Linked DNA regions of Homo sapiens: region 2 is linked to region 1. Evidence: fine-mapped expression QTL. Tissue or cell type: aorta. Region 1 holds a variant in brackets; the other region holds the start of a gene. All regions are shown on one strand. Distances are between the middles of the regions.

Region 1 (8,185 bases):
AGGTAGGTTTGGCTGGCAGCCTGGCAACCAGCAGACTCAGCTGCAGCTGCAGAGGCTGTGGGGAGTGGCATGTGGGGGGAGGTCGAGGACTCACTTTGGGGAGCCTAGGAGTGTCAGGCCCGGGGTGCAGCCGTGGAGGCTGTGGGGGTGGCATGTCGGGGGAGGTCGAGGACTCACTTTGGGAAGCCTAGGAGTGTCAGTCCCGGGGTAACCGCTGCCCTAGCTGCCCCTGCACCTGTGGTAGGACTTTCCTCATGGGCTTTAGGGTGACGGCAAAGGTCCCTTCAGTTTGAAATTCTGGAAGTTCCTGTTGGATGTTGCTTATCACAGGTGGGTTACTAACCCTTTCCACAGTTCCCAGGAGTAACAGAGTATATGTGTGTGTATATATATATGTATATATATAAATAAAATGCATGTGATTTTAACACAGAATGAAACTTCCGCATGTTTCGAAGACCCATGTCTCGGGGCACATGGTTCGCATTTCAGTTTAAGTAACTTTCTGCTGTGATGAAACTAACCCGCGTGGCCTCTTCCCGTCCTGTGTGCCGCAGGCTCTGCGCCGGGAGACCCACGAGTGCTCCATCTGCCTGGCCCCTCTCTCCGCTGCTGGCGGTCAGCGCGTGGGTGCAGGCAGGCGTTCCAGAGAGATGGCCCTCCTGTCCTGCTCACATGTGTTCCACCATGCGTGTCTGCTGGCACTAGAGGAGTTCTCCGTGGGAGACAGGCCTCCTTTCCATGCCTGTCCTCTCTGCCGCTCCTGCTACCAGAAGAAGATTCTTGAATGTTGAATTCATAGTCAAGGAAAGTTAGGTAATTCTGAGGAAAAAAGTTTACCATCATTTTGGATGAACTGCATGAGTTCTGGGTTAAGTACTACAATGTAATCTGTTTCCCAGGGAAATAAGCTATTGGTAGTTGTAGGAAATCTTAGTATATTTTAAAAGCTGACATCCCACCTAATTTTAATCTTTGGTCTCTAAAAAGTAAATTTCAAATTTATGAGTTTAATCACTTCAAATATGAATAGCAAAAAATGAGAGCTTGCTTACTTCTAAAAATTGAGGTTAAGATATAGCTAGTGTCTGAACGACACTCCTTAAAGTAAGTTCCAAATGTAAAACACTCCTTAAGTTCCAAATGTTTTCCGCTAATAGTCTGTCCTAAAGCCTTTGCCATTCCTAATACTCGTTTTGTAATAATTGCTGTATTTCTGTGTAATAAAATATAAAAATAAAATATTCAGTGGTATTCAACATCAAAAAAGTGCAAATTTTAATGTCTTAGAGCAATAAAGACTGTTTTAGTTCACACATTTTAAAAAAAAGTGAACCTTTTTGGATAAGAATTGTTTTTGTCACTGGTTTACTATTACTGGGAGCTTGGTTATTTACAGTAACCAGTTACAGTCTCATCGGTTAGGTTACCCCTAGCCGAGTAACAGATAAAGCCCCAACTCTCAGTGGCTCGCTGAAGACACATGATTTCTGAGGTGTCCAACCCATGTCAGCCATGGGTGAGGCAGGGCGAGGGTACACCATGTGTGACCCTGGCTCCTTTTGTCTTGTGACACAGTCTCCTTTGCCCCCGAGTCCCCAGTGAATCCTGTCACTGCTGGTGGAGGGGCAGGAGGACATTGTTCCAGGCCATGCTTGGGAGTGGCGCTCATCACTCCAGCCACAGTAACTACAAGGGGCAAGGAAAGGGCAGGGTGTAGGCCTAAGAGGAAGAGGCCAAGTGGGTGTGCACATGGCATGGGCTCAGAATAACCCAGCATCTAATGTGAGAAGAAATGCCAAAATTTCTATTTATTCTTATCTCATCCCTTAGAAAAAATACTCTCCTATGTTTTGTGATGTACACATTATATAGCTACATATGTATGTATCATTTATGAATAAATATGCATATATTGGGATGTGCTCATTTTTTAAGGATGTATACTATCAAAAAATTTGCAGACTAATTTGGAGAATGCTTTAAACAATGAGTAAGCACTTTTATTCTAAGAGAGCAGAGGGAAACTGAATCACAGAACCTCAATTTTCTGTAAGCTGACATCTCTCTCCCCATAGCGTTGACAGGCAAAGCACAGGCACGTGTCAAAGGCCAGAGCAGTCCGATTCCGCCGCCCTAAACTTTGGATCTAGAAGGAGAGTCCCGGAGATACATGGATCATTCAGTGATGGGAAGAGCCCAGGAAAGGTTGTGCCTAAGGCTGTGCCCAACACTTCTTCCGGGGCTTTCTCATCACATCTGTGAGCCATGCCATCCACCCCGTAAACCTTCCGTGCCTATGTTGGCAGAGTCCATCTCTATTCTTTGCAACCAAGTGCAGTACTTTACTGACACAGGAACTAGTGTTAGTTGCAGGCAACAGATACTTAGGAAAATCGGTGGGATGAAAGGCAGGAATGGTCATCTAACTTCACTGAGGATGAGGGTCGCGAAAATCCCATGAGTTCTGAGGAATGGTCCAGGGCAGCCTGTGACAGTTAACAGAAAATCAGGCAATTTTCTTACTGAAAAGTGGCCATGGAATGGCGCGCCCATCGAAAGCTTGCGAGACCAAGTTGCAACCACAGAACGCTAAAAAGGACCTGAATGAAGTAGCTACTTCTCTGGACAATTTGAAGATAACGCCACATTGTCAGGTCAAGTCAGGAAAACAGTGCAAGCTTTTATACAATTACTCCACAGCCTCATCAGGTCTCTTCTATAAAAACTGGGACACTGACCAAGAAAGAGTGGGGCCTTTGGAAACATGAGTTCATGGGAGGACTCAGCGGACAGGGAGAGCCCTGTCTGCTGCCCTCATTGTGTCTTCCTGGTCAGCTACAGCAGTCCCTACGGGATGTGGCCATTCCTCCCTTATTTTAACAGGTTGGAACCCACTTGTCTGACAGTCACCTTGCAAGATGAAGCCACTTCTTGTGCCTTCTCACACATCCCTTTTTGCCTTTAAATCCACTTAATTAGGAGCCTACCATTCCATGGGCGGGGGGAATCATTAAATCACTATCAAGTCCAGAAAGAGAATTCTTAGCGAATTGTGGGACTGGAGGCATTTGATAAGAATAAAGGTTATAATCTAGAATGAGGATACCTGTCATGAATCTTTATCAACCAGATAATAGAACTGTAAGGTACATGAATGAACAAGAAACTGAAAACCTAAAACAAAGAAAAAATGAGACTGCGGTTGTACTGGCCTGTATTTACATCCAGTTCATCTGCCCACTGTAAGCGTGACCCCAGGCAAATGTCTGCAGCTTTCTCAGTGGCGTTCCTTGTCGGTAAAATGCAGATGTGTATTTTCGGCTTCGCAAGGTGGTCCTGGGGGTGACTGTGGGACGACAAAGAACTCGACCCTCCACACCACGCCCCAGGCCCCTCTCACCACCC[C/T]TGCTTCCAAGTCTTTGATGAGATTCCACAGTAAAGACTAAAAAGAAAAGAAAAAGTGAATCACTCTTCAGACTGAAGGATAGCCAGGCCAGAGAGGTGGCGAGGAGGAAGTGAGCAGGAGGAGGACGATGCTCCACTTGTCACTTAGTTCTCTGACTCTACTGTGGAGTCCATATAGAACAACTGTGGATGACTTCAAGATGCTGTTAAAGAGAAGTTGCAGAATCAATATAAATAGCTACAGCAGTATCAAATATGCTTGGTTCTGAAGTGTCAGTGTTTGTAAGCGGCATCGTTCATTCAGTAACAGCTTTTCAAAGGAAAGGAAAGGAGAAGACATTACAACAGCCACAAAACAGTTTTAGTAACTGTTAAAACTTCAGTTCTCAGACCCATAGCCCACACGTGACTCTCCACCTCCTCACACTCAGACACAACAGATTCTTCTACATCACTCTAGTCCTCCACAACCACTCACATCAGGGCCGCCCTGCTGTTCATAATCCAGGCTCATAAACTTGACTTCTGTACCACCTTTAGAAGTAACAGCAGAACACCAAATCCATATCCAAGAATAATGAGGTTTTGTGTGAAGTTCCTATTTGATTATAGTTAACCTTGAAAAAATTTTTTCCTAATTAAAGAACACAGAATTGGAAGTTAAATAACTTCTCTTGAAAAGGTAAGTTTATTGCCTAATATTCCTTCAAGACATATGGATCAATCACCAAGTTTTGAAATTTTGTATATATTTGTGAGTTTTAGGAACTTCTCCTGATATTACATTTTCTACAGTGCAACAAGTAATTTGCGTACACAGTACTTTTGCTTCAGTTGTGTTTGCAGCAATAATTTTTACCTAAACAATATTCAAAAACCAAAAAAAAAAAAAACTCCAAAAAGGTCTTTGTATTATTTCTTCTTTTAAACCACATTCCAAAGGGATGCTTTTCAAACTGAAGTCTGCCATCTATTAGGAGGCCACAAAGTAACTTAGTGTCTGTGTCTAGTATTTTTAAAAATAATAAAACAGAAGATGCCAGCATGCACACTTAGGAAAAACAAGTACTGTCTTGTTAAATTTTTGCTTATACGTATCTGAGAGACAGAGAGAGAGAGAGAGAGAGAGAGAGAGTGTGTGTGTGTGTGTGTGTGTAATGGGTTATTTCTTACTGTGGTCAAAAAGTTGAAAGCCACTGTAAGTAGGCTTCTGTCTGCCAGTAAATTAACCAGATGCTAACAGCATTTATTCTTCCAGGAACTCTGGGTTAAGCTGTCCAGACCACAAGTAGGTGCTGTTCAGTCCTTTTATGGAAAAAATTAGAGAAATCAAGTCTAAATAATTCAAGTAATTAAATAAAATACATGCTATCAATTATTGATGCTACATTGTGGGTTATAAGAAATTGATCTACCAATAACTGCACAACAGAGAAAGAAAATATCCATTTCTTAATTCAACATTCATCAGAATAATTACTGCCCTCTATAAAACTGAAATGGAATTAAACTATAAATACCCTTAAGTTTTAGCCATGATAATATTTAAGATGGAAAAAACAAAAGAACAAATAAACCCCACATATAAATGCTTATAAACCAAATATGAAATCACTTTTTGTACAACTTTTAATTTCTAAGACATTTAAAAAGTCACACTAAAAGTATCTCATAGAAACAAAGACTAACAATTTGTAAACAAAACAATCTGTAAACAAAAATCAATTACTAGTGTGTCCAAATGTTATTTTTAAAAGTTAACATTATACCAGTTTTTTCAAGTTTAAAAAGTCGGTGCTGCATCTATGTTCACATTAAAAAAAAAAACTTGTAAGAATTCTGCCTTTATGCATTAAATAACGTGCTACCAACAAAACTAGCACATAAGAGCCTGTAAATGATGAAAACCTGTGTCCCTGGCAGACGAGGTCATCACTGAGGCTGCAGGGAGGGCCATGGGCACCCAGCAGATGGGGAGGCCGCACTGCCGCTGAGAGCAGGTACACGTGCGCCTTTAACACATCTGAGAGCAAAACGCGAGAGGCTCCGTCCATCTCTACTAACCAGCACCTTAGTGCAGCAATTTAAGGAGCTAACATTAGTGTGTATGTGTGTACAAATTTCATGTAAAGCCTCATATTTAGAGGTCTATTTTTACAGAGAATGTACATAAAGCTACGTAAATAGTAAATCTAAGAAGTATCTTGGAAAATCAGTAAAAATTAATACAAATGTTATAATCTGAAAACTTATAATTGTAAAATAATTTATTTAAGTATTGCAGAACCAATTAATAAGAATCTGCAAGTTTTCCCCAAGAAACTCTGGAACCATAGTGCCTAATGCCCTTTAAAATCGATACTAAAGGAGAGAGAATAAAAGGACTGCTTGATGTGACAGTCACTGGTGCATCCCTATCCAGTCAGAAACAAAACTGTAGCTCCAGAATTGACCTGATGATGAGCATCTGCAGCTCTGCCTTCCAGGGTCTATCTCCTCTCTTTCACTGGCGTGCAGGAACTGCAGTAAAATGAGGACCCCCAGAGCGACTGTCCTTACCAGGACTCAGAACGTTTGGCCTCCGTATTCTGGCATCCATTTCTGGAGTTCGTCATATAAAGCAGCCTCCGACCTAGCTCCAATGGAAGCACCTGCATTTGGAGTCAGTCTCTCCAGAGGCAGATGCTTGGGCATGTGCTCAGGAAGAGCCTCGAGGAACCGTGATTACGCAGCAGCCCAAGGCTGTAACAATCTATTTGTTCTCAAGGCATATGAGTCCCAGGTTCGAAGCCGTCCTTCCACCCCATGCATATCCTTTGCTTCAACAGCAGTGAGGATGCCTCCAGGAAGTGTATTGTACTCAGGGCTTACAAATCCAAAACTGGCTTAAGTCCTCGGATGGAGAGAAACTTCCAAATGAACAAAAAGTTGAGCTAAACACTGAAAAGTTTAGTATTTTACTTAAAAATTTTCAGACATTTTCCAAGTATCTAGGAACTCTTTGGATGTGCCTGAAAGTGGTGTAAGTGAGAAGTGATATTACTCTACTCCTGAGTTTCTTTCTGTTCTTCCCTTCACTTGGTCTGCTCAAAGTATGGACTCCAAGCTTCACTAAAAATCAAACCTGGCAATTAATACTTCAATAGGCATAACAATGAAATTGGAAAAGAGCTGAATTTTATTAACTTTTTAGGTATGTCGATTTTATGCTGAGAAATTCACCAGTACTATACTGGTGGTATTTACTGAAGCTTGTTTAGAATCACAAAATGAATGTTCTTTTATTTTAAAACCAAGCTGCATTTTAGAAAGATGTGAAGCTCGGAAGGAAATGCAGACGTATAAATAAGGGGGAAGTGTACTCAACAAAGGTTGTAAATATACAGATTAAAGTTTCTTATTATTTTGGTTTAAAGTGGAAATTTCTGATGTCAAATAGACACAGCCTGCGTTTCATAAATTTCTCCCAGAAAACCTTTAAATGTAACAATTTGAAAAAAATGTTTTACTTTTGTCTGAACACAGACCATCTATTTTCATACACACAGTGCATGTGAACATATTTATATAGCAGACTGCATAACTACGAATTGTGTGCAAATGGGCCCATCTCCTATTTTTGCATGCACAGATTTCGGTATTCTATCCTAGTGGATGGTTGACACAGAGTGCAATTTCATAGTTTTTATTCAGTGGACTTAAAGCCAAGAAACCATCCCAATAATTATTTACAATTTAATAACTGAATGATTATCAGATCGTGTTATACTGCAAAACTGTTCTTACACCATGAATGCTGATGCTGTGAACTTTGGATGTTAAACTGGTAAAAGCTGGAGGCTTCAAATGGCATATGCAAATGTAACCAAAGCCTGAGGACTATGAAGAAAGAGGAGTTTCTACCACTCGGCATTTATAGTTTTTATATGCATTGCAGAAGCATGGGGAATTAAGTGATCTCTGAAAAAAATGCTTTAAAAAACTGAGTATACATATAGCCTATAAGGTAAAAATCCAAGTTACAAGTGTATTAAACACTGGCAACTATGTTATCAGAGGGAATACTGAATTATATATATACATAAACTGTCATTAAACTGTGATTACATGATACTTCCTACCACAGCTTATTAGACTGTACAACAGAAGATATTCCTGTGGCTCTCTAAGGCTCCAGGTTTAAAAGAATTTAGTATTTTCCCCTTGGCTCAAAGTCTAATCAGTATCATTCTATAACATAAATCAGAAACTACGCTTTTTGCTTTTAAGGAAATAAGAAACATAATTGCAACCATTACAGCTCCAACATACACTGCAAAAATGATATCTACAAGCAGTTGCCATTGCATTTGAAAAATGCATTTTCTGAATAAGCTTCACTTAGTACCAAGGATGCCTTTCAAGTCAGCTTCTACATTCTGAATAAAGTACATAATGGGATTTAAGTAAATCTTTAGAAGTCCCGGAGTTTGCCTTTTCTAACATTTTCATATCAGGTGAAAACAATTTTTTCATATGGGTGATTGTATTTACCAACATGAGCAAATGTCTACAGAAGAATGCGCTGTTCTATATGTCTGTAAGGAATCTGCACTTAACTGGAAACTACAGGGTCCATCAGAAAGTTAAATTTAAAAAAGATCAGCCATAGCCAAGTTCTTCGTAGATTATGAAAAAAAAATGGCACTGATAGGTCTAGGTTCTGAAGAGGGGCCACGGTTGAATGGAAATGCTTCTACATGGGACAGGAATGTCGTGAATCTGGAGTTCTCGGGTC
Region 2 (8,185 bases), 40 kb before region 1:
CCCTGCCCTTGACACATGGGGATTACTTACTACAATTCAAGGTGAGATTTGTGTGGGGACACAGCCAAACCACATCAGCAAGTTAGGAATAGAAATTGATAATAAATATACAAGTGTGGGAGGAGGGATAGCATTGGGAGATATACCTCATGCCAGATGACGTGTTAGTGGGTGCAGCGCACCAGCATGGCACATGTATACATATGTAACTAACCTGCACATTGTGCACATGTACCCTAAAACTTAAAGAATAATAATAAAGAAAGAAAAAATAAATAAATAAATAAATATACAAGTGTGAGTAGAAAGTTAAAGGTAATACAGAAGATTAAGAAAAATAAATGGAGAGATGGTTTTGGTGAAGGTTAAAATTGAGAACTAAATTAAAGATGAACCCCATGCCACCAATTTCTGCTCCTTAGGTTTGTTTTAGATGTCAAGGACTGTGTTAAGAGAGACAAGAGTCAAATAGGCACTGAGTAGGCTTTGAGAATATTTTGTACATAACAAAGGAGAAATGTGAGAGCATTAAGATACTAAAATGTGAGAAGGATATTGAACTAAGAACCATTCTGACCCTGCCTAGGCTTTCATTAGTGCAGTGTTTAGAGACTAGGCAGGTGGGCAAATTCAAATATTATGGGTATGATACATTAAGAATCCATAGGCCAGGCACGGTGGTTCACGCCTGTAATCCCAGCACTTTGGGAGGCCGAGGCAGGCGGATCACCTGAGGTCAGAAGTTCAAGACCAGCCTGGCCAACATAGCGAAACCCCGACTCTACTAAAAAATACAAAAATTAGCTAAGCGTGGTGACGGGCACCTGTAATCCCAGCTATTCGGGAGGCTAAGACAGGAGAATTACTTGATCCTGGGAGGCAGAAGTTGCAGTGAGCCGAGATGGCGCCACTGCATTCCAGCCTGGGCAACAGAGACTCTGTCTCAAAATAAATAAATAAATAAATAAATAAATAAATAAATAAATAAATAAATAAAAATACAGGGCCAGCACTAGTATCCAATATCATGATCTCTAGTGTCATCATGAAGAAAACCCCATCTTCCACAAGCTGGACTCCAACTGCCTATTCTAGTATTTGAACACTTTCTGTGAATTGCGCTCTACACAAGCAAAATATAAGATTTTCCCTTCATATCAATGTCTTCCACTTAAATAGTCCGCTATTGCCATCCATCTTGGGCTGCTCTTCCTTGGATAAGCACAGGTATCATCACTCTTTTTGTGATAATGTTTATACAACAGATCTCTTAGAGTACCACCCGCAGCTTTCTTCTTAAGCACAGTGGAGTACAGAAGTGCATCTTAATCAGCCAAGTACACTGGTGCCCTTCTCCTTGTGACTAAGCACCTCAACATCCTTAACATCATGCACCTCTAATTTTCTCTTCCGTCTCCACTATTCCTAGGACATTCAATTAGTGGTTTTGAAATTCTAAAACAATCATGTGGGTGCTTACACAAATGGCACTGAACAGCACCATGGAGAATGTACTCAATAGCAGTTTTCTGAAGATGTAAACATGCTTTGTATACATGCAGTTTCTCAGGCCCATCTCAAAAAAACAAAAAAACTTTTTTAAAACAAAAGGCATAATGTTAAAATACAAATCATTGATAACATGGTTTTGGGGACAAGATAGGTTGACTATATTTTTAATTATCCCTATCCAAGAATGTTGCATTCTGATCATCTAACTCATTTCAACAGAACACACTATCTTGAAGAATGAATGTATTCTTCAAATATCAACTATGTTAGCTTTGTTTTTGTCAAGAATTAGAAAGCAATAAGGTTAAATTTTCAGTCAAGCCTATACTTAACACAAATCGATTGCACATTTCAAAATAGCTAGAATAATTTGAATGTTCCTAGTGTAAATAGAAGATAAATATTTAAGGGGATGGATATCCCAATTACCCTGATTTGATTTTATGAATTTATCGAATTATCACGTTATCCAAAAACATGTTCATCTAATATGTATCAATAAAAAATAAATTTAAAAATAAAAAATTCACAATATTCTTCGTGGCTAACTGAAGAATGACCAATTTATTTTGAATAGAAAACATGCAGACAGAAAAACTATCATGAAAATTTAAACATGTGAACAGAGGGTAGGAATTTTAAAACGGTAATTTTTCTTAGAACTTTAAAGTTCAAGAAAAATACCTTAAAACCAACATAAAGAATAGCAGGCACTGTACTAAGCAGTTCACCCACAGTATCATGTTTTAATCTCACCACAGCCATAAGGCGGTAATAGCATGCATAGATATCATTCCAATTTTTCCTGTTGCAAGTAACAGAAAACCAGACCCCATCTGGCTGAAGCCAGTAAGAGAAAAGACTAACAGGAGGGCCAGCCTCAGGACTCAAATACGTCACCAGGACATGGGTTGCGTCCCAGTCTCAGCTCTGCCAGTTCCTGTAGAACCCTCCTTCCAAGGTTCACAGGGTGGCTACCATAGCTTCAGGCCCTCACCTCATGATAAGACAGCAATACAACTGCCATTTCATGTCTGTTGCTGTTTCTACATTCAGTTAGAATTAAATAAATTTTCCAGTAGCACCCACAAAAATACTGAGTCCACCTGGTTGGCCTACCTAGATATATCGCCAGCCCTGATCAAGTCACTGGTCACGGGCCTGGATTTTCTGGTTCGCTTAGGCTAATCATACGTCCCATCCCAGGACTGAAGAAGTACCAGGGCTGTTGCTGGAGAGTGGCTAATGTCCCCTTTACAAATAAGGAGCTCATGGTTTAGGAAGATGAGCTTGCCAAAAATCACACACTTGTAAAATAAGTCAAAATTTGAACTTAAGTCTACTTATCTGAGCCCAAAGTCTTACAACCATTTATGGCTGTTATCCTAACACCTACGTCGCGGAACGGAAGAGTCCTAAGACTGCAAAGACCCTTCCTTTTCTTCTAGATCCAGTCTAAGTTGGTTGGTAATTTCTTTAGACCCTGCTTTCAGGGAAGTTTAAAAAAAATTACTTGCATTTGTATATTTTCCTTGTATTTTCGGCCAAATTTCTTCTAATTAAAGTACAACATAAGTTGAACCAACACAATAATTGTCATATTAAGAAAAGATAAAACAAACTTTACTCATTTCTGCTTCTGGGCATGGAGTGTGAGGGACCAGACTTAAGTTCTCAAACAACTACAAAATCAGACCAAAAAATACAATGGTTTCCAGGCACCGGACGACAGGCAGTGCAGGGCTGTGATCCTTAAGAGAAGGGAAGCAGCGAGCCAGAGTATCCAGGCCACAACCCAAATGGAGGCCAAGAGAGGAACAGCAGAGGATACAGAGGGAGGGTTCCAGGGGCCAAGACGCAATCCGAGGGGAAGCCCTTCCGGGGAGAGCTGGAGTCCTGGGGTGGCCTTCTCGAGTCTTCCCGAGCAGGTCTGTGCAGCGAGGAAACATCCGAGGCTGGAGTGAGCCACGCGGAGGAGGAAGAACAGCCCGAGCTCACAGGGGCGGGGAAGAGTTCTAGCTCGCGACAGCCCCTGGGAGGAACCCTGCACTATTTGTGGCGTCGAGTAAAGCACCGGAAGGCTCTGCTCAGGAGCGTGAACGACACCGCCCGCTGCAAGCCTGGAAAGGAACGCGTTGCCTCAATTCACTCCGATGTGTCACACACGCGGCTCAGTCACCTAGGGAGCAGGAAAAGGCCAGCGGGCCACGCAGGGCTCACCCGGGCCTGCATCCAAACGCAAACGGCCAGGCCCACGAAGCAGGAAACACAACCCGCAACGAGAAGCAAAGGGATCCACAGAGAAGGGCCAGGAGTCACGGACGACGCCAGGCAGTCGGCGCCTGCGCTTCCGCGAGCCAAGACGCCTGAGCGGCGCGGGGGGATCGGGGGATCCCCCAGAAAACTGCCCTCGACTAACAGCGCAGCGAAGGGGCGGTGCGCTCGAGACCCTGGAACGGGAACGACCACAGCCACCGCAGGGAAACAACCGGGGCCCAGGCCCAGGTGGGCGGGCGGCTGAGGAGCGTGGCTGCGCCCACAAAGCCGCCGGGGGCTGCGGACTACAGCGAAGCCGGCGCGGGGCTCGGCCCTCACTACACGAGGCCTGGGCGCCTGCACGCCCCCGTGCTTCAGCCCGCGGCTCCCGAACACCCCCGCCAGGCGATCCCCAAAAACGCCCGCTGCGCGAGCCTCGACGGGAACGCACCTGCGTCTAGACGCTGACGCCGTGCGCGGGGCGGGGGCCGGCGAGCATGCGCAGTGTGGTGTGGACAGGGCGTGGTTGGCAAGCATGCGCAATGTGGGCCGGGCGGGGCTGGCGAGCATGCGCAGTATGGGGCGGGGCGGGGCAGGGCTGGTGAGCAAGCCCGCGGGGAGCGAGCGCGGAGGCGGGCGTTGCTACGGCAACGGTGGGCGGCCAGGGAGTTGCCTGAGGGAAAAGGGGCAGACGTCCCTGGGTTCCGGTGTTCGCGGAGGAGTCGAGGCACGGAGAGGCTTCGGGGGAGGGACGGAAAGAAGGGTGGCCCGCCAGGCGGGCGGGGTCCATGGATTCGGGGTGAGGGCCGTCCGCGGCCTCGCTTTCGCCTCCTCCGAGCCGGGCCGGCGATGGCCGCAGCTGTGAGGCGAGGTCGGGTCCCGTAGCGGCGCGCAGCCTCCTTGGGGGACTCGGGGTCCTGGTTAGTTTCCACAGCTCCTTCTATCTGAGGGGTACGAATTTACGGCTGCCTAAAGCCTTAGAACAGTGATCCCACGTCGGTAATTTTAGAACCCGGTAGGACCGGCTGCCATCAGGGGCCCCAGGTGCAGGGTGGTGTCAGCTTTGAGAGGAATTGGAGCCTCGTCACCGCGCGCTTCCTGCATGAGTGGAACCTCAGAAAACGGTCAGCGGGGTTCAGAAGGCAGGAGATAACACCAAGACCCTACGTAGGATTGCATCTTTACGTCGTAGGCTTGGTCTCGTGTATTTTTATTGAGCGTGTTTAATTAGCTGAGGTTACTCGCTTTGGCACCCCAGTGATCGTTTTTGCCACCAAGCTCTGCCTCTTGAGCGTTTAATACTGGGATTTACAAAGCAACGGGTTCCTGTTAATCTTAGCTTTCAATACTGGGCAAGGGTTACGTTTCTAACCCTACCAGTGCCGCAGGCTCATTATATATTGAAGGACTCACCTGGTATTTGGTTTTCTCATTTATAAAGTGGAGTTGGAGTAGGTACTTGAAGGGTTTTCAATACCTTTAAATTCTGAATTTTAAACTCTAAAACTTAATGATACCGTAGGACTTTAAGAGAGTATAGGTTTTAAAAGCTCTTACCTTGATATTAATGACAGTGGTCTACTGTGTAGAAACTTGAGATTAAATTGCAGACTGCAGCTATGACCGGACCATTTTTAGTGTGATGCAAACTGTATCTTCTGCAGGTTATAGGCATTTTGGAAGCAGGAACTGAGAAAATTCTGGCAGTGATCTTTCAGTATTTTAAATTCCACCATTTCTCCAAGTTCAGTTGTCTTGATGAGATACAGGGTGGAACTTATTTCAAACATCTCTTGATGCCAGAATTGAACGGGAACAGAAAAGGGCTGTAGTAAGAACCATCATCAAAGCCTCCAGGACTTGAGCAGCGACTGACGTTTTTACTTCTAACCCTGGATATCTCAGAGATTTGGTTCCACTGTGCTTTTCTATCTCTCCACTCACGCCTTAGTGAGTTTGTTCTTTCGGTTGGAGTAATTTAATACAAGTGTTAGTCCTTAGAAATACATTTTGGATTAATTTCTTTCTATTTTTAGAGTTAGGCCCTCAACACAGTAAGTCTTCACTTAACATCATCCATAGGTTCTTAGAAACTGGAGCTTTAAGCCATGCAGTGTACAAGGAAACCAGTTTCACCATAGGTTAATTGATATAAATAAGAGGAAAGTTCCCACAGCACATTCCTGGTCACAAAAACATCGCCAAACTTCTAAATAAAGACCAAAGCACTTCTAATATGAAACACTGAAGTACATATGAGCTCTACATTTAAGAAATATCATTACCCAATTTCTGGTGAATCCATGAGTGACCGGGTTGTGGAGGGGCTGTGTTAAAGATAATGTTGGCCAAGCCAAAGCTCTGAAGCACCTCCCCCTACCATGCAGTTTCAAAACAAACAGGAGCCACTTCTCAGCCCGCTGGGCCTTTCTTACTGCATCGGGTATTGTCCTGCATCTCTGTGTGAATACCGTATGCTTTACGAGTTTTTATTTGACAATAATTTGTATCCTTTCATTTTCCAACCTGCTTATTCCAGTTCAGGGTGGCAGGGGGCTGAGCCCATCCAGGCAGCTCAGGACCAAGGCGGGCAACAGTCCTGGAGAGGACGGCATCCCATGGCAGGGCACACTCACACTCACTCAGACGGGGACGCCCCAGTGAGCCTCACGTGCACAGCTTTGGGATGTGGGAGGAACCCGGGGTACCTGGAGGAAACCCACAGCACATGGGGAGGACGTGCAAACTCCAAACAGACAGTGGCCCCTGCTGGGGATCAATTTTTTTTCTCATCAGCGTTATAGGGAAACAACATTAGAAGAAATATGTTCAAGGGCCTTCTGTGCCAGTTCCTAGATTACTTGAATAACTTTCTATTTCTCCTCATCACAGTATATTTTGAATACATCTGTCTTCATAAAATACACCATGTCCAAAATCTAAAAGGGCCAATTCCAAATTATTCCACCAGCTTTGAAGGGAATTGAAGCAAGAATAACAAGAGTAAGTTCTGTGTGAAAAGACCTACTTTAGATACTTCAAAGGTTGTCTCATTAATCCTTGCGGCAACCCTGCAAAGCCAGCGTTATTATACCTGCTTTATAGATGAGGAGCCTGGGGCTCAGCTGTGTCCAGTATCTTGCGCAGCAAAGCGGTAGAGTTCAATTGGAACTCAAGTTGGTCTGTCCCCATATTCTGTACTTCTGTGTTCTGGACAGACTGAAGTTAGCCAGTGTTCCTCTTGCGTTCCAGTTTCTTCATTGTTCCCTTTCTCCCCAAAATAAGCATATCATGCTGATTTCCAGCCTGCCAGTTCTTTCCTCCTACCTGTAATGTGCCATCTTCATTTCCCTCTGTGTATCTTTCAAATGCCAGTTTAACTGGTTTTTCCAAGTCTCCAGTGTTAGCCTGAAGTTTTGTAGTACTTATGTATCATGTTATATTTAGCAATGGATTAATTCATAGTAATTAACCATTTGTATTAATGTGTCCTCAGGAGCTCAGGGGTGAACTATTTGAGGACAGGGATGAGTCGAAGCATAACTGACTTGAGTTCACCCCCTTCCTCCAGAACCAGAATGTGTAGCTTAGTGCCACCCTGTAGCAGGCATTCCTGCTGCTTCAGGATCTGTTAGACTCTTACAGAGCATCCTCACAAACTTCATGGTTTTTCTGTGCACTGTAACTTTGACTTTCTGTTGACCACGTCTTTGCAGCAGAAGAATAGAAGGAAGGTGATAGGATGTGATGATAGAATTTGTGATAGCCAAGCAACAACTTTTCCTAATTCGGCATGTTAAAAAATAAGGTACGCTATTCTTTTCTTAAACATACACGTTATTTGACTCATGAAATGTATTTTAATTCAGCCATTTGAGAGTATAAAAACTAGTTTGCAAACCCTGCTTGAACTAGGAATTGTCAGCAGGAATGGGCGATGCCAAGTGTCGCATGGGGCAGTGGACAAGCCAATGGAAAAACAATCTCTGGCGATATTTACTGCAAGCATCTCTTAGCTGTTTGGTGATTTTTATTCTGCACAGGAAATTATTAAGTTTTCACAAAAAGGCATAAGCTGAAATGGCAGGAGTCTCCTTAGTAGTTGCCTGGAGTCTAATTTAATTATAGTGAAGCAGCGTGGGTTTGTTTAGGCATGCACAGGTTTATGGGTCATAATGAATTTATTCATATTATAATTAAGGCTTTCATAATTAAATGAAAAGATATTCCTGTATTGTTAACATAAATGCTGAGACAAGGGTCTGCTCCTACTTAGGTAACAATGAGTCAAGCATTCCTTACTATTTGATTTGGTTGTATGTGCCATCAAGGTTGAGTATTGAAGCCTCAGTTCTCTTCTAAATGATATATTACATAATACTCCTCTAAATATGACTTTTTTCCTACTTTTTAGGGT

Which allele goes with the higher level. Positions count from the first base shown, and alleles are read on the strand shown. Sizes are in standard deviations (SD) of each study's normalised expression.
For the expression in aorta of the gene that starts at base 4,458 in region 2, allele T in region 1 goes with a higher level than allele C (moderate effect, 0.42 SD a copy in GTEx).

Evidence for each region. PIP is the estimated chance that this variant, and not a neighbour inherited with it, causes the effect.
Region 2: RNF32 starts here. The variant in region 1 is fine-mapped to the expression of RNF32 in aorta (GTEx, PIP above 0.99). The same link has a PIP of 0.9 or more in adrenal gland, atrial appendage, breast, cerebellar hemisphere, cerebellum and esophagus mucosa.

What each region holds. Positions count from the first base shown.
Region 1 is chr7:156,675,862-156,684,046 of GRCh38, forward strand. RNF32 (ring finger protein 32) reads left to right here. Exons shown (of 9, transcript NM_030936.4): 8 at 1-2; 9 at 558-1,269. The coding sequence ends at 794. LMBR1 (limb development membrane protein 1) reads right to left here. Exons shown (of 17, transcript NM_022458.4): 17 at 1,930-8,185. Among named protein-coding and RNA genes, the nearest start is that of RNF32-AS1, 20 kb to the left of the region's middle. The variant C/T (reference allele first, on the strand shown) is at 3,409.
Region 2 is chr7:156,636,317-156,644,501 of GRCh38, forward strand. RNF32 (ring finger protein 32) reads left to right here and starts at 4,458. Exons shown (of 9, transcript NM_030936.4): 1 at 4,458-4,495; 2 at 7,485-7,576; 3 at 8,183-8,185. The coding sequence starts at 7,562. RNF32-DT (RNF32 divergent transcript) reads right to left here and starts at 4,219. Exons shown (of 4, transcript NR_026865.2): 1 at 2,632-4,219. RefSeq lists an enhancer at 3,889-4,480 and a silencer at 4,049-4,358.